2 linked regions of the Homo sapiens genome follow. The protein of the gene in region 1 purifies or fractionates together with the protein of each later gene. This does not show direct contact. Each region holds a gene or a part of one and is shown on either strand. Other genes may lie near its edges. The genes, in order: LRRC56 and POMP.

Region 1 (3,814 bases):
AGCAGGAGAGGCCTCTCACAGGCCTGCTCGGGTGACCACCCCCCACCCCCGTGCCCGCGGGAAAGCCTGGCCCTAAGGAAGGGCTGGGGAGCCGGACCCTCCCTCCCCAGGCCAAACCCAGTTGGGGGCCTAAACTGGGTTCCAGCCTCTGCTGCCTCCCTGGCTGGTCCCAGTCCCCCACTCCCCTCCACCAAGAGGGTCCTCCCCAGGGCCAGGCACTCCTTCCACCCCCCAACACACCCGCCCAGGTATTCTGTGCTCTGTGACCACATATGTGGGCAAGTCGTGGCCCCAGCACAGGGAAGCCTGGCAGTGGGGGCTATATTAAGTGGGGACGGGGCTGGGGTGAGAGAGTTCAGCTGCCCTGGGAGGTCTAGCTGCTGCATCTGGTGCTGGCTTTGGGCCAGGACATCCCTGGGCTCGAGGGCTCAGGCGTGAGGCCACCTCCAGGGCTCTCAGGACAGGCACTGCAGCCACCCCATCACCCAGGCCAGGCCCCCAGCTGCCCAGGACTCGGAGCCGACGCCCCCTGGACTGCAGGTCTGTCGACCACCGCGGGGAGCTGCTGCCAGAATCTCGTGGCCTTGGGTGCTTGGGAGGTGAAGGGACCAGGTGCTGGCTCGAGGTCCCGGAGGGCTCTAGAAAGCAAGCAGAGTGATGGGACGTCAGAAAGGCTGTCAGGGAAGGGAGTCACCCGGTGGGGAGGCCACAGCCCACCCGTGGCCCTGCAGCCCCGAGGCAGTGGTCCTTGGGGGTCCACAGGCAGCAGCACCCCTGCACCCCACTTTCTGTGTTCCCAGCCCTGTGACCCCTGACTCGCATGGGCGGGCCCACCTCTGGGGCAGGCAAGGAGGCCACGAAGCCTGGTTCTGGCCCTGGGTCCTCTGTGTCCTGTCCCTGAGAAGGAGACCACAAGGCCTGGCTCTGACCCTCGGTCATCTGTGTCCTGACCCTGAGAGCCTGTTCACTGGCTGACCGCCCCGGGCCGGTTCCCAAGCCTTGGGTCCCCCAGCACCCGCCTCCACCGGTGTCTGGAGCCCTGGCATGCCTTTGTCCTGACCCTGCCCTGAGGCCACTGCAGCTCCCCTCCTCCTGGCCGCCCTGCCTGCCCTCCCTCCACCCCTGCAGGTCACGGCCACTAGGTAACCAGCTGTTGACCCCTCTGTCTGCCCCCTCCACAGACACCCACCACCATATGGAAGAGCAGAGGCTTGGCCTGCCCTGTTCCCTGCCCATCCCAGCCCCCTTAACCAGGCTCCTGCACAGAGGAGGGTCAGCTGCCCACCGTGGGGTCGCCCCTGCTTACACTGCCCCCTGCCCGGCCTGCCTGCCCGCTGAGGGAGGGTCCTCTCTGCTTTGCAGCTGTGATCACACTGAAGTCAGTGTCCTTCGTAAAGGGCACTGCATGGCTTAATTCTATGTCCCCAAGTGCGCGTGCCATCTTCAGGGTGAAGCGGCAGCACCCTCCTGCCTTGGTCTCCCAGTGGGGCTGCTGGCCGCCTTTCCTCCCAGCCCCCGGACTCATGCCTGTGTCCCTGAAAGCTGCCCAGTGGCCATGTTCTGCCTGCTGGTGCCCTGGGGTGGCTCCTTCTTTCTGTCCCGACTCCTCTGGACTCTGTTCATACCCCCTTTTGTGGAACGCCTCTCTTTCGTCCAGCCCGGGTGGCACACAAGGTCACAGGGATTGGACCGTGGCTTGGGAGAGGACTTGGGTTGGGCCTCCCTTGGTCGTGAGCCCCCCACCCCCAGAAGGGGGCCTCCCTGTTACAGTCCCTCTCAGAGCATGGCTGAGGAAGCAGGGCCAGGTTGACACATCTGATCTGGGGTAAGGGCCCCCCTATAGAAGTGGGGTGTTGGTCACTCCCAGGCACTGGGGGGCAGGCGGGCAGGCTCAGTACCTGAGGCCAGGCTTGGGGGGCTGGAGGGAGTCTTGGGCTCTGCCTGGTGCACTTGCTCTTCAGGGACCCTCCGTGGGCCCCAGGGGGCTACAGCCCCTTCCTGTTGGGACTCCGGGTGCCTATAGGGGAGGGGGCTAGGGTGGGGAGAGGAGGAGAAGCTCCAGCCCTGATCCCCCCACGGGACAGGACACATAGGGATGGTCCATGAGCCTTGGGACTGGGGATGACTCAGCCAAGGTAGCCCCAGCCCTGATCCCCCCACGGGACAGGACACACAGGGATGGTCCACGAGCCTTGGGACCAGCGATGACTCAGCCAAGGTAGCCCCAGCCCTGATCCCCCCACGGGACAGGACATGCAGGGATGGTCCACGAGCCTTGGGACTGGGGATGACTCAGCCAAGGTAGCCCCAGCCCTGATTTCCCCACGGGACAGGACACACCCAGTGGAAGAGCTGGAGGGACACCCACCGCACGCCATGTTCCCTCCAGGCCCTGAGCCCAGCCAAGGCCAGGAAGTCAGAGCTGTCTGCAGGGTCAGGCTCTGGGGTGGAAGTGCTGGCGGCCGGATCTCCTGGCCTGTGTTGGGGCAGCTGCTCGGGGGGCTCCCTGGCCTGGGGAGGAAAAGGGACTGCTTTAGGGATTCTGGCCCTGGAATGGCGGCAGGGCAGGGCACTGTCAGGGCCGCAACCCTGGACACTGGTTCTCGTGGGGGGCTGGTCCCTGTGGGCTGTACCTGGCACTGGTGCCTACGCTCCCGCAGGCCCTTGGTGGGGTTCCCACAGAGGACTTGGCCAGCACCTGCAAGAGACAGCATGGCTGGGCCTGGTTCGGGGCCGAGGGGCTGCAGGGTCAGCTTTGAGGCAAGTCAGTTACCATGGGTGAGGCTGCTGGTGTTATCTTCTGGGGCCAGGTCCTCAGAAAGCAGGCCTTCAGGCAGGGGGCCCCCACGGACCAGCAGGGAGAAGGGCCAGGGCCTGGAGGCCCGGGACTGCGTCTCAGGCAGGGACAGCTCGGGGTCAAGTCTCCGGATGGGGGCTCCACGGGGACAGTCTGCCCGAGGTTCAGAAGCAGAGGTCACCAAGGCCCAGCCTGAGAGCGCCCCCCAGACTCTGTCCACAGACCAGGGGCCCCAATCCCCATGCTGCATGGCCTGAGGCTGGCCTCTCACGCTGCAGCCTTCTAGAGAGGCCCTCATCTTCAGACCTTCCTCTCCCTCTGTGGGCTGCTCAGAGACAGTGTCCTGGCCTGGGGCCGGGTGTGCACAGCTCTGGGGACCGGGGTCAAGGCTGGAGAAGCGCATGAGATGTGGCTATCCGTTTCTGAGAAGCCTGGGGTGGGGGCCTCTTCCTGGGGGGAGCTGGGGCTCAGCAGTGGGTCCTCCGGGCGCAGCTGCCGTACCCAGCGGGGGAAGGCCGTTGCCCTTCTTGATGGCCTCCTTCACCGCAAGCCAGTCCTGGCTCAGCCGCGGGGGGGCCGGTGGGCCTGTGTGTGCGGCCGGCACTTCGTCCAGGACCTGCAGCTGGGGAATGAGCTTCCTCACCTCTGCCCTGTAGTTGTAGCCCCTGGGCACCTGCAGGGGGAGGGGGAGGGGGAGGGAGGGCAGGTCTGGGTCCAGTGTTTCCTTCCGGCCAGCTCTTTCCCTGGCTCCCTTTCCCAGACCCACCGTGGGGCAGGGCAGGGGCCCAGAGGTGGGGATGCTGCCTACCCTGCAGGGGTGGGCTTGGGTCACTCTCACACCCCAGGGACTGAGGGACTGGGCTCTCACCTGCTCAGGATGTAGGACCCCACTCTCCAGACCCAAGGCCGGGTCCAGGGATGCCCTCTGGCCCATGGAACTGCCCTCAGCTCAGGGCTCTGGCCCACGGAGCAGTAGCTACTGGGCACTGGTAGACGCTGACCTCAGCATGTGGCAGC
Region 2 (3,814 bases), on another chromosome or scaffold:
AATAAGAGGATAGGTCTGCCTATAAGAAAGAGTAGAACAAATAATGTAATTATGAAATTGAAGTTCAAATTAGATGAGAAAAATAAAAAAATTCCTCATCGATTTAAGTGAATTCAGGTTTCAGGTGCAGAAGTTGACAGCCCAGAGTACACTTATAAGTATGTGAGTATGATTATAAAAGCACAGTTGATCATCTTTGAGAACTAATGGGAGAAATGAAAATTGGTTATAGATGGATACATATTCCACTTTTGTATAAAGGATCTAACTAAAAAATAAGATTGTCTGTGGTAACATTGATCCCTGAAACTGTTTCTTAAGTGGACTATTGAGTGAGCTGTGAGCATTTAATAGGGTAAGCAGTGATCATCAGCATCTGAATGAACTCAGCAAATTAATTTTAGTTCACTCTTTTACTCAGTTGCCAAATGGGTCAGTCAAGGGATCAAATTATCTGACAAGGGATAAGATTGAGGATTACATGGTGGATTATTAACCGAGTGAAAGTAGTGTAGGGTAAAGTATATGAGGTTGGTAACTGTACCCAGAGAACGGTGATTAGGGAATAGTCAATTTGGAGGGAATATTTTGATAGGGCTTTTTGGCCTCTGTCTACATCTTAGGTAGTCAGGTGGACACATAGGAAGGATAAGTATTTTTCAAGGACTTGTGGGCAACCAAAGAAAGAATGTATATTAGGTTTTTGGAAAAAAGGTTGAGAAGGATAGTTCATTCTGTTGAATAATTGAACTATATCATGGTGATAAAATAGACCAAAGTCTAGACCAAAATTTAAGGAAAACATTTATAGAGGTGAGTGTGAAGTTCTGCGTTTGGATTCAAAAAATGAATTCTACACCTTTGGGCAGGGTAAAGTGACTTGCTCTGTAAAACTTGACTATTTTAATTGACTGTATACTCACTATAAGCCAGCAGATTACGTTAGTTACTAAAAAGAAAGGTTAATGCAGTCTTGGGCTTTGTTAATAAGATGGGGCTCAAATCAAGGGAGATTATATTATTTTCCTGTGTATTAGTCTGGCTATTAGATTTGGAATATTGGTTTAGTTCTAAGCAATACATATTAAGAGAAACTGACAAATCTGAGTGAGACTAGGTGGAACTGTGAAGAATCTAAAAACTTCAGAGATCTTTTTGAGACTTACATACATCTACTGCATCTCTTCTTCTTTAATCATTTAGCCAGCTAATGGCAGTCTCACTCTTTATGTGACTCTTACTGTCTATTATAAATCCTTCAGCATGGATTGTGTAGTTGAACTATGTGGGCACCCCACTTTGCTAAGTAAACTTGGGGCATATTGCTTAATTTTCTTTAAGCCTTAGTCTTCTCATCTGGAGTTAGTAATAGCCCATCCTTGGCATATTGCTGGCCTCTAGTAGCTCTGCATGATTGGGAGCTTCAGTGGTGATAGTGATGGAAGATGGCCATCATCATTTGTACCAGTGGTTCTCAACTAGGGGAGGATCATCCTCCTGCCCCCTACAAGGGAACAGTTGGCAAAGTCTGAGGACATTTTAGGTTGTCACAAGTGGTGCGGTGGGGGATGGGGGGATGTAATATTGGCATCTATGGGGTAGAGGCCAGGGATGCTGCCAAACATCCTACAGTACACAGGACAGCCTGCCACAGTGAAGAATTATCTGGCCCAAGAAATCAGTAGTGCGGAGGGTTGAGATACATACATAATGTCTTCCAAACTGGATTATAATCTCCAAGGTAGGCTGTTCAGTTTTGTTGTGTGTTGCCACAGAGCCTAATTTTGCACACGGTTGCTAACTTACATGTTGATTGATAATTACAGTATTAATATCACATTACAAGATGGCTGTATTCATCAAAATTTACATAAATTGAGTTATTATACATAAAATTACATTTACTGCTGGGTGTGGTGGGGTGTGCCTGTAGTCCCAGCGGCGTGGGAGGCTGAGGCGGGGGATTGCTTGAGCCTGGTAATTCGAGGCTGTAGTGCTCTATAATCGTGCCTGTGAATAGCCACTGCACTCCAGCCACATAGCAAGACCCGTCTCTTAGAATAAAATTGTATTATCATGAGGATAAGCCAATATTTAAAGCAAACCCTTCACTTAGAACTTCAGATCATATACCCATAATAAAATACTGCAGGTTTTCCCTAAGGACCATCTGTCAAAATTTGCTGTGTAAAGCTAAAGTAATTAAAAAGCATTTGGTTAGTCACCTTACTTTCAAACTTCATAGTCATATCCCAAGTAGGTGCTAATCTCTCAATAGATTTTTGTTCAAAATGACCTTTTTGATTACTATTAGAAGACAATGTTATCAAGAGAGTAGCGTGTAATAAAAAATGACAAGAAATGACTTTACCTCATTATAATCACCTTAGCTCAGACAAATCTTTGTAACAGTCTGTTTGCATATTACATTCACTATCCTTAGGAGCCATTTTTGGAAACTGTTTTAGAATCCATGAGTCAAGTCGATTCATTTTGCCTGAAATACATTAAGTTATGGCCAAAGTTCCCTAAATGTAATATCAGTACTTAGTGAAAGTATGATCCAGGAAAAATTGCTGATTAGTACCCAATACAAATTGAATAAACTTTTGAGAGATGTTTGTTTTTCCCCTGAGGCAAGTACCAAAAATAAGTGGAGTTTAAACATAGTTTAATTAACAGGATGATTTAGTGGTCAGATTATTTCTTTTGCTGAATCCTTTTAAATATATGCCTTCATACTTAGAAATTAACTATTTTTGTCAGTGGATGTGACATTTTCTGGATCTCAAATTACACCTTTGCTAGTTTTGCAGTACTTTTAATCAAAAGCGCTAAAATATGATTGTCTTGTAAATCTACTTTTGAATAGGAGACACATTCCTTTACTTTTATAAATTTGGAATTTTGGTAGTAATTTTACTCTGGTAAAAGTACACCTGCATGCTAAATGAAATATAGACATATGTGGTCTAAAATTTGTCAGAAAAAATTAGTAAAAATACTTAGTTTTTATTACAGGTATGGATATTAAAATTCTTCATCTAACTATTGTGTTATATATATGCCACTGCTAACTGTTTTGAAAGCAGAGTATTGAGTGTAATGTTTAAAATTACATTGTCTTTTGTAGTTCCAGCTCAACCAAGATAAAATGAATTTTTCCACACTGAGAAACATTCAGGGTCTATTTGCTCCGCTAAAATTACAGATGGAATTCAAGGCAGTGCAGCAGGTGAGTTGATGGATCTCTGTTGCATATGTGTCGATATCATTCATGAGGAATCTTCTGTTTTCATAACAGCTATTTATACCTTATCTACCTTACAACCTATTCTACTTCCCTCCCCCTTTTTAGGGTATGACCTTGATTTCTACTTCATAGAGGGAAAAAAGAAGTCATTAAATGGAAAACTTCAAATTACAGGCTCAGTGTCTGAAAACTTACCTGCATCTGCTTTCATGTTTTTCTGGGTTTTTTTTTTATGTATTACATTGAATTTGAGATCCCTCTAAGAATATCCAAGTGGAGGTGTCAAGTATACAATTTGTATATAGTTGAATATACCTGTTTCTAAGGAATAAGTACTTGGAAAATGTCCTTCCAATTATGTAAGAACCACCCTCCTACCTGTGCTTTGGATTCTATCCTGTTACATTACTTCAGGAAAATCCCTTTATCAATGATGCCTTCTCAAGCTGATATCTTTAACCCCTCTCTGCTTGCTCTGTCTCAGCAGTAGCATTTGAACCGCTGTTGTCTTTTAAAACAAAAAAAAATTGTATCAATTTCAAATTCCTTTATAGTAACTTG

The links.
Region 2: the proteins of LRRC56 (region 1) and POMP purify together in Homo sapiens (affinity purification with mass spectrometry; one large-scale study listed by BioGRID and IntAct). This does not show direct contact.

Annotation. Positions count from the first base shown.
Region 1 is NC_000011.10:550,787-554,600, reverse strand, and holds part of LRRC56 (leucine-rich repeat-containing protein 56), read right to left. Parts: intron 3,471-3,814; coding exon 3,299-3,470; intron 2,951-3,298; coding exon 2,774-2,950; intron 2,699-2,773; coding exon 2,634-2,698; intron 2,512-2,633; coding exon 2,369-2,511; intron 2,033-2,368; coding exon 1,899-2,032; intron 639-1,898; coding exon 325-638; 3' UTR 1-324. UniProt on the Homo sapiens protein: Required for the assembly of dynein arms.
Region 2 is NC_000013.11:28,665,340-28,669,153, forward strand, and holds part of POMP (proteasome maturation protein), read left to right. Parts: intron 1-3,133; coding exon 3,134-3,235; intron 3,236-3,814. UniProt on the Homo sapiens protein: Molecular chaperone essential for the assembly of standard proteasomes and immunoproteasomes. Degraded after completion of proteasome maturation. Mediates the association of 20S preproteasome with the endoplasmic reticulum.